2 linked regions of the Homo sapiens genome follow. The main gene of each other region encodes a partner of the protein of the gene in region 2 in a complex. Each region holds a gene or a part of one and is shown on either strand. Other genes may lie near its edges. A codon is read from its position in the direction of its gene.

Region 1 (7,030 bases), on a different chromosome or scaffold from region 2:
CTAGGTTTAAAAAAAAACAACACATAATAGAATCTTAATATATTAGAAAGGAAAAGAAACAGTCCGGATATAATTTTGTGCTGTTAATTCTTCATCATTCACTAACTGATGAGAACAAGGACCCCAAAATGAAGTTGACAAGATAAAGCAATTAATGTACTGAAATATAAATAGGAAGGGGAAGGTATGGCTCCACTGCTAGAGGTTCCTGCTTACTTATAAAACAGCAGACACCTAAAAGGAAACATTATAAATCACCATCCAAATCTACTCATCTCTCAAACGGTAGGATATGAAGCACTAGGTCTTTAAAAGCAAACCAAGCCCCCAAAATAGTCACGCGTCACTTAACAACAGGGATATATTCTCAGAATTGCATCACTAGGCGATTTTGTCATGTGAACACCATACTGTAATGCACGAACCTAGATGGTACAGCCCACTGCACACCTAGGCTGTATAGTAGAGCCTACTGCTCCTAGGCTACAACCCTGCACAGCATGTGACTCTACTGAATCCTGTAGGCAAAATATTTGTGTACCTAAACGTAGAAAAGGTAATGTGTTGTGCCACTACAACATCACTAGGCGACAGGAATTTTTCAGCTCCATTATAATCTTATGGGTCCAACATCATATATGCGACATTGACCAAAGCGTCACTGTGCAGCACATGGCTGTACTACTTCAGGAAAAGTTGTCTGGGGCTGTGAAAGTTTTTGAAGACAAAGTCCAGGGCCAAATCTAAAGCAGCACACAATCCTCGTCCTTGACTACCTGCGCTCCCACGATGCCATTGCCCCCGTAGAAGTTCTTGGCATACATGTGCATCGATCCTCCTTTCCCTTTAGCACAACCTCCTTTTCGTCCTGGAAATGGCAGAACATACACATGTGCAGAACAAACCAACTCTACAAAGCAAACCAAACCGCACCCCAAATATGTACTCTGAGGCTCAACCATTAGAACACAGAGGCCAGTTCAGTCGTCTAAGTACCTGTCCCTCCAGGCAAACACATGTTTCTCCTTGTCCTTTCACTAGTTCCATGTGCTTCAACCTTTCCAGCTTTTCCTACTCTCTAGTCACTTAGTTTCCTTCAGATGTTCCATCCAGATGATACCCTGGACTTTTCTGGGTTTTCTGGCCAGTTACAAACATCTTAGGACCTCTCCTATACTAGTACACTAAATATATTCAATCCTTGAACAGGGTTTGAACTGCACAGGTACACTTATACACAGATTTTTTTTCAGCCACACATGTATTGAAAATAGAATATTCTCAGGATGCAAACCCGAAGATATGGAAGGCTGACTTTGGGACTTGAGTATTTGAGGATTTTTGTATACTCGAGGGTCCTAGAACCAATCCCCTGGATATATAGAGGGACAACCATAGTTCAAGAGTCAAGGAGGGCCGGGCACGGCGGCTCACGCCTGTAATCCTAACATTTTGGGAGGCCGAAGAGGGTGGATCACCTGAGGTCAAGAGTTCAAGACCAGCCTGGCCAACATGGTGAAACCTGGTCTCTACTAAAAATACAGAAATTAGCCAGGTGTGGTGGTTGGGCACCTATAATCCTAGCTACTCAGGAGGCTGAGGCAGGAGAATTGCTTGAACCCGGGGGGCGGAGGCTGCAGTGAGCCAAAATCATACCACTTCACTCCAGCCACTCCAGCCTGGGTGAAAGAGTGAAACTCTGTCTCAAAAAAAAAAAAAAAAAAGGAGGAGGAGGAGGACCGGGCACAGTGGCTCACGCCTGTAATCCTAGCATTTTGGGAGGCTGAGGCAGGCCACTGCACTCCAGCCTGGGCAACAAAGCGAGACTCTGTCTCAAAAAAACAAAACAGGCCAGGTGCGGTGGCTCACGCCTGTAACCCCAGCACACTTTGGGAGGCCAAGGCAGGTGGATCACCTGAGGTCAGGAGTTGGAGACCAGCCTGGCCAACATGTTGAAACCCCATCTCTACTAAAAATACAAAAATTAGCCAGGTGTGGTGGTGCATGCCTGTAGTCCCAGCTACTCAGGAGGTGGAGGCATGAGAATCACTTGAACCCGGGAGGTGGAGGTTGCAGTGAGCCGTGATCACACCACTGCACACCAGCCTGGACAACGGAGTGAGACACAGTCTCAAAAAAAAAAAAAAAAAAAAACCACCAAAACAAACAAATAGTCACGGGGGACAAAGAAAAGGGGAATATTAAGAAGATTTCTAGAATTTACATTGCATACCATGGAGTGCTTCAACCGAACTTACTTTCTATGACTGCTAGACTTCTTCTGGCATGCTTGAATGATAACCAAACCTACTGTGATTTTATAGCACCAACCTGTTTTAAACTTTTACCTGAGGGGCCAGAGAACTTCACAAATGGTCAGTTAACTCAAGAGCACAACAGAAGTACCAGAGCACCAAAGGAGAGAGGGTTAAAAAAAGAAACTTAAAATTTTTAACAAATATTAACTCATAATAGCATCTTAATGACAGATATTTAAAAACTTAATCCACTCATTTCCCCTTTCTGTAAATCAACAGCAAACCTGTAAGCTCTGCGAGAATTTCTCGGACGGAAAGGCCCCGGGTGAAAGTAAAGCCGTGAGCCCGGTAGGCTGTGATGAGATGGTCTGTGGGGTTGATGCCGGCCTCCAGGCCCACACAGCAAGCTTCCTGTGTTAGAGGAAGGAGAAACTATGAGGCAATATGATACATGTTTCTAAATAAAAACGTTTCCTAGACCACAGTGAAATATGTGGGCTAGTAGAACCTGTCATTAATAACCAGAGAAAGTAGCTATTTTCCACCAAAATACAGAGTGGAAGGCCCAAACCAGAAGCAATAAACTGGCAACCCACACATGTGCCACTTCCTTCCTTTCTCCTGTATGATGACCTAAAAGAAAAGCCTACATCAGATGTCAACATTAAAACACTGGGGAATTTCACATGAAAATCCAGACTTCCGCCTTCTCTTAGACATGGAAAACAGGAAACATTACCCCTGATTTCCACATGGCACCAACTGGCTGGAACCAAGTCATGGCATTCCTCTGGGTAGGGCATGCTGGTGCCAGTTCAGCATGAGTCCCTGTCACCATTTTCTGTTTTGTATACCTAGCCTTCTTCACTCATTTATTCTACCTGGCTGGCCCTTGTAGGTATTTGACTCTAACCCTTGACCTAAGCCCACAAAACAAAAAACAAACTAATCCTTTCTCTCCAAATTATATACAGTACAGGCGATCATAGTGCCAGAAAGTTTTAAAATAGTAAAACTCTAAGAACAGGTACAGAAAACTGGCAATGTTATGTGTGAATGAATTCTTTAGCCTAAGCTTCATAGCAGGTTTTGGCATTCTACTTTTTAATTCTAAAATACTGGCTTCAGCCAGGCACAGTGGCTCACGCCTGTAATCCTAGCACCTTGGGAGGCCAAGGTGGGCGGACCACTTGAGCCCAGAAGTTTGAGACTAGCCTGGGCAACATAGTGAAACCCCGTATCTCCAAAAAATACAAAAATTAGCTGGGTGTGTTGGTGTGCACCTGTGGTCCCACATACTCGGGAGGCTGAGGTGGGAGGATTGCTTGAGCCCAGTGGACAGAGGCTGCAGTGAGCCAAGATCACACTGTACTCTAACCAGAGGCTGCAGTGAGCCAAGATCACCACTGTACTCTAACCTGGGCGACAGAGAGAGACTGTCTCAAAAAAATAAATAAATAAAAGAAAATTACATTACCAGCCTCAAACTCTTCTGATACATATGGCAGGGTAAAGCCCAATAAGTACAAGCCATACTTCAGTACCTAAATAACACAGTTCCACCACAAACCTACCACTCACCTGACCATCACACAAGTGACAGAAACCACGAATAATTTTCTGTTTATACAGCTGATCTGCTTTCAACTCCATTCGGCGTACAGTCTGCATCATCCTGTAGTATTTGAGCCCATCCTCCCTGGTGAGCACTGTTGTGACAGGAGGGCCTTCTTCCAGCCGGTGAAGGTCACATTTCTGAAATGGAATAAGGTAGTTATTATCCTCCACATACTACATTGCAAACACTGTTGACCACTCTAAGATCTAACTCCATTGCAAATAATATTGAACTTGAAAAACTGCAAAGGAGCACATCAGTAATGCTTCATATCGCCTCTGTTCCTTAAATCCATAAACCTCACTGTGCAATGAGATGGGGCTTGGGGGAAGGAAATCTTTCTAAGATGATTTTCACTGAAAGCCCCTAGAAGCCAACTGAGTTATAGGTTGAAAGAACCTTCAAAGAAACAACTAAGACTCTTCTTATTCAAATATTTCACTGAATTACATTCCAAACTTTTGAATAAGCTTTTATTTTTATTTTCATTTTCTAGCTCCTCCCCCTTCCCCCCACAGAACAACAGCAAGCTGCTAATAATAAATTCTAGTTTTCGTGAAGCTTCTCTGAACTTCTGATCCTGGAACATTTAGAAGAAAATGATGACTAAGCATGAACATCAAAATGTTCTATTCTAAAGGTAAAACTGTATATCAGAGTGTACCTGTGAAAAAATTATTAACAAAGTAAAACACCTCTTACCTTAATTTCAAATGTAGCATCATTTGCAAAATTACGGGATGCTACCAGCACTCTGCTTGCCTTAAAAGACAAAAATATACAAACAAATCAGTACTTTTTAATTGTCAGCTATTTTGGAAAGTATAATAATCAGTTATCAGAATGAAGTTATGGAAATTTAATAAGCCCCAACATATTCATAGGCTTCTCTTCCACCCTGTGCACTGTGTTTGCATCTTCCTTGGCCTCCAAAATGAATCCATGCTTTGGCCAATGAAACAGGATTATCCCGCATCTGAAGGCAAGCAGCGCAAAGAGGGGCAAAAAACAAACCCATCCTTTGTTTTCAAAGAAATTATAGTGAGAATATAATGAAATTAGTGGCTAAAGAGACTAGATCATCTGTGAGCTGTGTCTGTTTATGCCATTCTTTTGTTTGTTTGTTTTGAGACGGAGTTTTGCTTTTATCACCCAGGCTGGAGTGCAGTGGTGCGATCTCGGCTCACTGCAACCTCCGCTTCCCGGGTTCAAGTGATTTCTCCTGTCTCAGTCTCCCGAGTAGCTGGGATTACAGGTGCCCACCACCACGCCCGGCTAATTTTTATATTTTTAGTAGAGATGGGGTTTCACCATGTTGGCCAGGCTGGTCTCCAACTCCTGACCTCAGGTGATCCACCTGCCTTGGCCTCCCAAAGTACTGGGATTGCAGGCATGAGCCACTGCGTCTGGCCTTTTCATGCCATTCTTAGTCATAACCAGATACTGTTCATTTTGAGCAAGCCAAAATTATACTTCAAATAAAACTATGATTTAATCTCCACTCTAGGCAAACTTGACTCTTCTATCAAATTGGATCTGTAAGAAAAAATATTTTAAATTGATTGAAGTATGAGATAAATACTTTAGGGAGACAAGACAAAAGAAAAGATACTTAGCACTCTCTGACTTAAACACAATGGGCTTGAGCCAGCTGTTTTATAATTTATAATTTGAACAGCCTAAATCTTGGACAGGCTCCTCCTGAAGCCCCAGTAGAAATGTTCTCTGAAACACTGTTCTCTTGATGTTTGGGTGGCTGTCACTGTTTGGAGGTAAAAAGCTTGGAGGCGGGGGGTGAGAAATGATTCCTTTCCAGTTTTACAACTGAGCAAACCTGCTCACAGCAAAAGTATTCTATGTAATGGCTAAGGTTTAGGTTAGACCACAAAATTTATCCAGTAGTATTATCATACTATTTTAGCTCCCTTCTGCCACATTCTCACACACTGACGTGTAAACCAACATGATTTCTCCATAAAAAGCACATCTGATGTGTTCATACCTTACCTAATCCAGCACTGGACTGATCTTGGTGAGAAGAGTTAAGACTGATCTGCCAAGTATACCCTGGAGTGTACAAGCCAATAGGCAGAAAGCTAATTACGTATATCTTCACCCCTCAATAGACCATTATTGGACAAAGCCAACAAACACAGACAATGACAGTGCTGGAGGAAAACAACTGAAATACTAGGAATCAGTGTTTCAGTTAACTTACAGGCAGAGACAGTCCACTAATGTATCTCAGAAAAAGTGAAGGAAATTTAGGAATTTGGGAAGAAGTAAAGCTGAGAGAAGGTGAAACAGCAAATCAATGGTTATATTTAGCAATCAAACAGATGTGTTATTCTTGGCAGTTAATAAATATTTTGTGGGGCCAGAAATTTATTGTATTGTGAAATAAATTTCCAAATACAACTACAGAAACTGCAGTTTTTGGAAGGCAGGAGTCCAAACCAGCCAGGCGACAGTAACAGAGAAAAGGTAACTTCTTTCTCAATCCTAGAGTTGAAACAATGAGGCAGGATAATGCTATACAATAAAGAGCAAGAAGGGGCCCAGTGCTGTGGCATGCGCCTGTAATCTTGCGCCTGCAAAGATTAGGACTGCCAGAAAGCTACTTAGATACTTTCTCCCATGGCTTCATTACTGTGTATCTCAAAAATAAGAACCACTGATATGAGTGAAAGGAACAAAGTTAAAGAAGCTAAAAGTCCTATCAGAAGTGTGTGTGTATCATTTCTGAGTGAGAGCTTGTTGAAAAGATAAGTTTACCATTCATTTTCTCTGGAGAGCCATAAAAAGATTCTCTGTTAAATGGGATTCCTCTCTGACAGAGACCACGAACAACCCACTCAAATTTTAAAAAATAAAAACTAGGCCGGGCATGATGGCTCACACCTATAATCCCCAGCACTTTGGGAGGCCAGGGTGGGAGGACCACTTGAAGCCAGGAGTTCAAAGCCAGCCTGGGCAACATGAGACTCTCATCTCTACAAAAATAAATATTAAAAAATTAGTCAGGTATGGTGGCACACACCTGAGGCTACAGTGAGCTATGACTGTGCCACTGCATTCCAGCCTAAAAAAAAAAATTAATTAAAAAAAAGTAAAACTTTAACTTCCTAAATACATAGGAACCATTCATGTGAAA
Region 2 (7,032 bases):
TGAAGGCCACCAGACATGTAGTAGGTCTTGGCAGCTGAGTTTATAACCTGGTCAATGGCTTGCATGGAGAAATTGAAGGTCATAAATTCACAAATGGGCCGCAACCCAGCCTGTAAAATCAAAAACGTGGATGTTAAAAAGACTAGAAACAGCAACAAACAGTAGCAAACAAATCACTCCAAGTCTTCCAACATTCAAATAATGTTTTTATTTTTTATTTTTATTTTTTATGGACAGGGTCTCACTGTCACCCATGCTGGAGTGCAGTGGCACACATCATAGCTCACTGCAGCCTCTAACTCCTAGGCTCAAGTAATCCTTCCTCAGCATCCCGAGTAGCTGGGACTGCAGGCAAGCACCACCACATCTACCTACTTGGTATTTTTTTTTTTTCCCAAATGATGTTTTTAAAAGGTGATGTTAAATCTCTTTGGGGATGGGCACAGTGGCTCACGCCTGTAATCCCAGCACTTTGGGAGGCCAAGGCGGTCGGATCACTTGAGGCCAGGAGTTCAAGACCAGCCTGGCCAACATGGTAAAACCCCATCTCTACTAAAAACACAAAAATTGGCTAGGCACAGTGGCGCGACCTGTAACCCCAGCCACTATGGAGGCTGAGGCAGGAGAATTGCTTGAACCTGGAAGCTGAGATGGTGCCAGTGCACTCCAGGCTGGACAACAGAGTGAGACTCTGTCTCAAAAGAAAAAAAAAGAAAACAAGAAATGTCTTTGGATAAGTTTCATAAAGAGTATTACATACCATAGCTGCACCTACAGCAATTCCAGCAAAGCCCATCTATAAAGTAAAATATAAACATAAGTGAAAATCCATAAAAATGAGGATAATGGACACTAACAGACATGCCCTCCAGGGTCTGCTTCCCACTGGAAGGCTTACCTCTGATATGGGAGTGTCAATAATCCTCTTGTCTCCATATTTCTTCCACAGCCCTCGACTAACCTACAATTAAGAGTTGATCCCTTAAGTGTATCTGGGGGTAACAGTGACCTCAATTTTGTATAACTTTCATATATTTTAGTTACCTTGTATGCCCCATCATACTGGGCAACTTCTTCTCCAAGCAGAAATACCTTCTCATCTCTTTCCAGCTCCTCATCCATACCCTGATTTATAGCATCACGAACTGTCACCTGTCACAGGTATGCAAAAACAGTCAATACAGAATTGTTTGGGATTCAACTAAGATTTTCTTCCTTTATATTTACCTAGGCTGCCCACAGCATACAATATAAAAACACTAGAACAAGCTTCTCTCTAAAAACTCAAAGAATTCTAAAAGTAACATTTCTATTACACATAGTTGGTCTTTGCATGTGTTAATGTACTGAGTGCTCACTAGGTGCCAAGTACTGCCAAATACTTTGCATCCAGAATGTAGGAGTTGCTCTTTTAATATAATGAATGGTAAAATCTAGTTAAAAAAAGGAAGGAGAGGAGAATTAACATACAATCCATCAATTCCACTTCTATGTATATGCCCCAAATAATTGAAAGCAGGGATTCAAGCATATACTTGCACATCAATGTTCACAGCAGCATTACTCACAATAGACAAAACAAGGCCAGGCACGGTGGCTCACACCTGTAATTCCAGCACTCTGGGAGGCCAAGGCAGGTGGATCACTTGAGGTCAGGAGTTCGAGACCACCCTGGCCAACATGGTGAAACCCATTCTCTACTAAAAATACAAAAATTGGCCGGGTGTGGTGGCGGGTGCCTGTAATCCCAGCTACTCGGGAGGCTGAGGCAGAATTGCTTGAACCCAGGAGGCAGAGATTGCAGTGAGCTGAGATAGTGCCACTGCACTCTAGCCTGGGCAGCAAGAGCAAAACTCCGTCTCAAAAAAAAAAAAGAAAATGTCGGGCTGAGCGAGGTGGCTCATGCCTGTAATCCTAGCACTTTGGGAGGCCAAGGCAGGCAGATCACTTGAGGCCAGGAGTTCAAGACCAGCCTGGGCAATATGGTGAGACCCTGTCTGTACTAAAAATACAAAAATTAGCCCGGTGTGGTGGCACCGGCATCTAATCACAGCTACTCAGGAGTGTGAGGCGCGAGAATCCCTTGAGCCCAGGAGGTGGAGGTTGCAGTGAGCTGAGATCGCGCCACTGCACTCCAACCTGGGTGACAGAGGGAGACTATCTCAAAAAAATATACATATATATATTATTCAGCCTTAGGAAAGAATCAAACTCTGACGCATGCTACAACATGGATGAACCTTGAGGACATTACGCTGAGATAAGCCAGACACAAAAGGACAAATGATGCCACTTATAAGAAGTTCTAGAATAGGCAACCTCATAAAGACAGAAAAGTACAACAGGGGTTACCAGGGGTTTGGGGAAGGGAAATGAGGAGTTACCGAGTAATGGACAGTTTCTGCTTGGGATGATTAAAAAGTTCTGGAAATGGATGGTGGTTAATGGTTGTACAACATGGTGAATGTACTTAATGCCACTGAATTATACACTTCTAAAAAGTACATTTTAAGTTAGGTCTATTTTGCTGCAATTTAAAGAAAAAAACATGGAGTGAGGGAGGAAACGCCTAGTCTTAGTTTTCCCCCATTGCCCAGCCAGCTGTGAGGTGGTGACTCGCCGGTGTGCTAATTGCCAGGCGGCGACAGAGGCAGCAGGAGCTCCACGGAGGATGCTGGCTCCGCAAACCCAAGGCCCACGGCGCCGGAAGGCCACAGCGCAGGCGCGACTCCGGCCTCCTTCCCGAGAGAAGGGGGGACCCTCCCCGCCCTCGTCCGACGAGCACCCGCGCCTGTTACCTGCAGCGCAGCCGGCGCGGTCCAGTGAAAGCGCCTCTTCAGCAGCCCGGAGACCTGGCAGGGAGAGAGGAAGATGACGGCGGGACGCAGGGTGGGCAGGGGTCGCGTGGGAATACAGGCCGCGCGCTGCTGCCTACCTCCCGAAGGGGTCTCCGCACCAAGCCAGACACCGCCGCCATCTTGGTCGTGTCCTCTATCCGCTGCCAAACGACAACAGAGGGGCCGGCAGACGTGAGCAGGCCCCGCCTCCACCGGCGCGGGCCAATGGCAAGGCGCGCCGGCTGCGTGACCCGCCCACCCGCCCACCGGGTGAGGGGCCGCGGGGCCGGGCTGAGGTGGCGTGTGGGTGGCCGTGCCCCTCTGCCTGGAGCCGCCTCAAATCAACTTTATTGACAGTAGGCGGTGACCGACAGGCGGGGTGCACGCTGGGCACACGTGCCTGGTCGGTGTTACTTGAAGCGTGGGGACTAGAAGTCAGACCCTGAGGAGCATGATCTCTGGAAGCTGGAGAGACCTTAAGAGTTAGGCCAACCTGTTGTGGGTGCTGGAATCCTTTGGGCACCAAGAAGTGCTTGCACACGCTCTACTGATGGGGAACTTAACACTTCATGAGTGAGTCTAGTCTTCCCTGGACAGTGCTGTCTGTTGATTCCTTATAATGCACATCATAGCTTTCATTGATTGCATTAAGCACCTACTGTGAGCCAAGCATTGAGATATGTGCTGTATAGCTCATTCTCACAGTACCCCACTTGGGTAATTAGTGTTATTATTATCTCCATTTTGAAGACGGTTAAACTGAAGCAGAAATTGATTAAATGAGCCGATATTTTAATTTAGGACTGTCTTGACTCTAAAGCATGGTCTTTTTCCCACTGCTTCCTAAAGCAGAAGTGGATTCCTGCTTGGGGGAAGGTTACAACAACTTTAGAGAAGGGCGGCCCTATGGATGTAGCAGGACAAGCCGCAGACGAAACTCCTCAGACACCGAGTTAAAGAAGGAAGGGGTTTATTCGGCCAGGGGCATGGGCAAGACTCTTGTCTCAAGAGCCGAGCTCCCTGAATGGGCAATTCCTGTCCCTTTTAAGGGCTCACAGCTCTAAGGAGGTGTGCGTGAGAGGGTCATGATTGATTGAGCAAGCAGGGGGTATGTGACTAGGGGCTGCAAGCACCGGTAATTAGACTGGAACAGGATAGGGATTTTCACAGTGCTTTTCTATACAATGTCTGTAATCTATAGTTAACATAACCGATTAGGTCGGGGTCGATCTTTACCAGGCCCAGGGTGTGGCACCAGGCTGTCTGTTTGTGGATTTCATTTCTGCCTTTTAGTTTTTACTTTTTCTTTCTTTGGAGGCAGAAATTGGGCATAAGACAATATGAGGGGTGGTCTCCTCCCTTATGGGGAGGTGCCAAACACTTGGCCATAGGGACAACCTCTGGAAGCTCATTAGTCTTAATTTGGCCCTTGGGGGTCAGATGGGACAATTGAGCACCCAGTCTCCACCCATCCCCAAGACATTCCAAACATTCCCTTCTATGGATCACAGCTGCAGGCTGCCAAATTAGGAATTTGCAACTTCCAGTAGGTTGCTGACTGGGAATGGGAGGGGGTGGAGGCAAAGGCAGAACAGGCGGATGCTGGGAAGTCTGTGGCAGCAACAGAGGCAGACTAGGAGGCAACTTCCAGATGGAGAGGAGGGGGACAGTTTTGAGATCTATTTGGGCTAGAATCAATAGGAATGCTGTAAGTGCTAGGGAAGAGCAGAGGAAAATTTTGGATTTTTGTCATTGCTGGATGGATAGATGGGGTAAGGGAGGAGCCTGGGGCAGTGTAAGTGCCAGGAGCTGGGGAAGTAAGAGTGTATTTTTGTTTATTTTTTGAGATGGAGTTTCACTCTGTCACCCAGGCTGAAGTGCAGTGGGCCTCACTGCAACCTCTGCCTCCCAGGTTCAAGCTATTCCCCTGCTTCAGCCTCCCGAGTAGCTGGGATTACAGGCACCTGCCACCATGCCCGGCTAATTTTTTTTATTTTTAGTAGAGATGAGTTTTCACTATGTTGACCAGGCTGATGTTGAACTCTTGACCTCAAGTGATCCACCCGCCTCAGCCTCCCAAAGTGCTGGGATTACAGGCATGAGCCACTGCAGCCAGCCTTTATTCTTTAGATGACTGGGACATACCCAGGTTGCCTGGAGCCTAGGGCCTAGTCAGGGCTAAAGGTAGAAATTTGGGGACAGCTGCATAGAGATGACATTTACTCTCTGGGACTGTTTCATCTGTAAAATGGATAGAAGATCTTCAAGATATGGAATCAACACCTTCTGAGTCTCCCTCACCTGCCACCATCGTCTAGTCCCAACTGTCCCTGCCAGGGCCTCAGGAATGGCCAGCACTTCCTAGACTGCCACAGCATCCCTGAGAAACTCCTGAACTTGAGATTTCAGCCCCCAAAAGTTTGTGGGTGGTGCTCAGAATGAAAAAGTGAATCAGTCCTTCCCACCTTTCCCACAACCTAGCACCAAAAGATTTCAGGATCAGATTTGCCAAGCAAAAGGAGATGTTACAGGAAAGCAGTCCCGATCGAGATCCCAAGAGAGAGTTCTTGGATCTCACACAAGAAAGAATTCAGGGCAAGTCCACAGTGCAAAGCAAAAGCAAGTTTATTAAGAAAGTAAAGCAATAAAAGAATGGCTACTCTATAGACAGAGCAGCCCTGAGGGCTGCTGATTGCCCATTTTTATGATTATTTCTTGATTTTATACTAAACAAGGGGTGGATTATTCATGCCTCCCCTTTTTAGACCATATAGGGTAACTTCTTGACATTGCCGTGGCATTTATAAACTGTCATGGCGCTGGTGGGAGTGTAGCAGTGAGGATGACCAGAGGTCATGCTCATCGCCGTCTTGGTTTTGGTGGGTTTTGGCCAGCTTCTTTCCTGCAACCTGTTTTATCAGCAAGGTCTTTATGACCTGTATCTTGTGCTGACCTCCTATCTCATCCTGTGACTGAGAATGCCTAACTGTCTGGGAATGCAGCCCTGTAGGTCTCTGCCTCATTTTACCCAGCTCCTATTCAAGATGGAGTTGCTCTGGTTCACATTCCTCTGACATTTGCCTCCTCCCTATTATGAGAGAAACTTTAATCCTAAAAGTTTCGGAGGGATGAAGATGCATCTTCTGTAACTTCTTCAGGCTGAATAGGGGTGATGATATTCCTGCTTAACTATTAGGGTCCCTTATGTTCAGAGTAGAGAGGAGCTCAGAAAACATCAGTATAGTGAGGGCCATTCATAACTCCAAGTTCTGACAAAAGGTGATATCTGGAAGATTAATAAGTATTCAGTTTAAGAAAACATTCAGTAAGCTTATCCTGCACTCCTACACAAAGAGTACAATAGCAATATATTCCACAAGAGTAAAGCAAAATAAGTAAAATTATCCCAAGTAAACTAAATTAGAAGGCTTTCCATGAACTGGGCAACTGTTGGAACCAAGCTGATGTGGGGTTGCTAGCTGATTCCAGTGTGTTCAGAATTAGAATATCGATTCAGATTTTTACATTACCCATCTTCCATGCGCGTCCATGTGAAGAGACCACCAAATAGGCTTTATGTGAGCAATAAAGCTTTTTAATCACCTGGGTGCAGGCGGGCTGAGTCCAAAAAGAGAGTCAGCGAAGGAAGATAGCGGTGGGGCCGTTTTATAGGATTTGGGTAGGTAGTGGAAAATTACAGTCAAAGGGGTTTGTTCTCTGGCTGGCAGAAGTGGGGGGTCACAAGGTGCTCAGTCGGGGAGCTCCTGAGCCAGGACGAGCCAGGAGAAGGAATTTCACAAGGTAATGTCACCAGTTAAGGCAGGAACCGGCCATTTTCAGTTCTTTTGTGATTCTTCACTTGCTTCAGGCCATCTGAATGAATACGTGCAGGCTTGGGCTCAGAGACCTGACACCATCACTCTTGTTTGTTTTGAGCAGCAGTCAGAGATCACTGGTTGGTTCACAGGAATAAGCTGGGTTAGCCTAAATTGCAGAAACAAACTTAAAAACAACTGATGAGACTAGAATCTAATAACCAGTGTACCATAAGTTCTTGAAACATTATATTTCTCTCTCCAGTTTCCCATTTTTACTAAAGGCAAATCTTGGTAAGACTGATTTGCTTTGTTATACTTGGCCTGATTATTTATATAAAGTGTAGCAAGAATAATTATTTTTCACATAAGCTCTTTTT

The links.
Region 1: the proteins of PDHB (region 2) and PDHA1 are in contact, whole or in part, in a crystal structure (PDB 3EXE), measured with the Homo sapiens proteins. Residues at the interface, in NP_000916.2 of Homo sapiens: Glu59 (codon at 1,074), Gln62 (codon at 1,065), Tyr63 (codon at 1,062), Ala66 (codon at 1,053), Asp84 (codon at 916), Pro86 (codon at 910), Ile87 (codon at 907), Ser88 (codon at 904), Glu89 (codon at 901), Met111 (codon at 83), Phe115 (codon at 71), Gln118 (codon at 62), Ala152, Gly153, Val154, Ala155, Ala156, Gln157, His158, Pro297, Val323, Arg324, Val325, Thr326, Gly327, Ala328, Asp329, Val330, Met332, Pro333; in NP_000275.1 of Homo sapiens: Ile87 (codon at 3,872), Arg88 (codon at 3,869), Gly89 (codon at 3,866), Phe90 (codon at 3,863), Glu137 (codon at 2,552), Leu138 (codon at 2,549), Thr139 (codon at 2,546), Gly140 (codon at 2,543), Gly148 (codon at 845), Lys149 (codon at 842), Gly150 (codon at 839), Gly151 (codon at 836), Met153 (codon at 830), His154 (codon at 827), Asn164 (codon at 797), Gly165 (codon at 794), Ile166 (codon at 791), Val167 (codon at 788), Gly197, Ala198, Asn200, Gln201, Gln203, Gly228, Met229, Gly230, Thr231, Arg235, Ala236, Asp296.

What each region holds. Positions count from the first base shown.
Region 1 is NC_000023.11:19,346,920-19,353,949, reverse strand, and holds part of PDHA1 (pyruvate dehydrogenase E1 component subunit alpha, somatic form, mitochondrial isoform 1 precursor), read right to left. Parts: intron 4,639-7,030; coding exon 4,579-4,638; intron 4,014-4,578; coding exon 3,840-4,013; intron 2,691-3,839; coding exon of another isoform or gene 2,670-2,690; coding exon 2,543-2,669; intron 869-2,542; coding exon 777-868; intron 1-776. UniProt on the Homo sapiens protein: The pyruvate dehydrogenase complex catalyzes the overall conversion of pyruvate to acetyl-CoA and CO(2), and thereby links the glycolytic pathway to the tricarboxylic cycle.
Region 2 is NC_000003.12:58,430,833-58,437,864, forward strand, and holds the start of PDHB (pyruvate dehydrogenase E1 component subunit beta, mitochondrial isoform 1 precursor), read right to left. Parts: upstream 3,001-7,032; 5' UTR 2,978-3,000; coding exon 2,936-2,977; exon of another isoform or gene 2,853-2,935; coding exon 2,799-2,852; exon of another isoform or gene 2,763-2,798; intron 1,153-2,762; coding exon 1,045-1,152; intron 962-1,044; coding exon 899-961; intron 797-898; coding exon 761-796; intron 111-760; coding exon 1-110. UniProt on the Homo sapiens protein: The pyruvate dehydrogenase complex catalyzes the overall conversion of pyruvate to acetyl-CoA and CO(2), and thereby links the glycolytic pathway to the tricarboxylic cycle.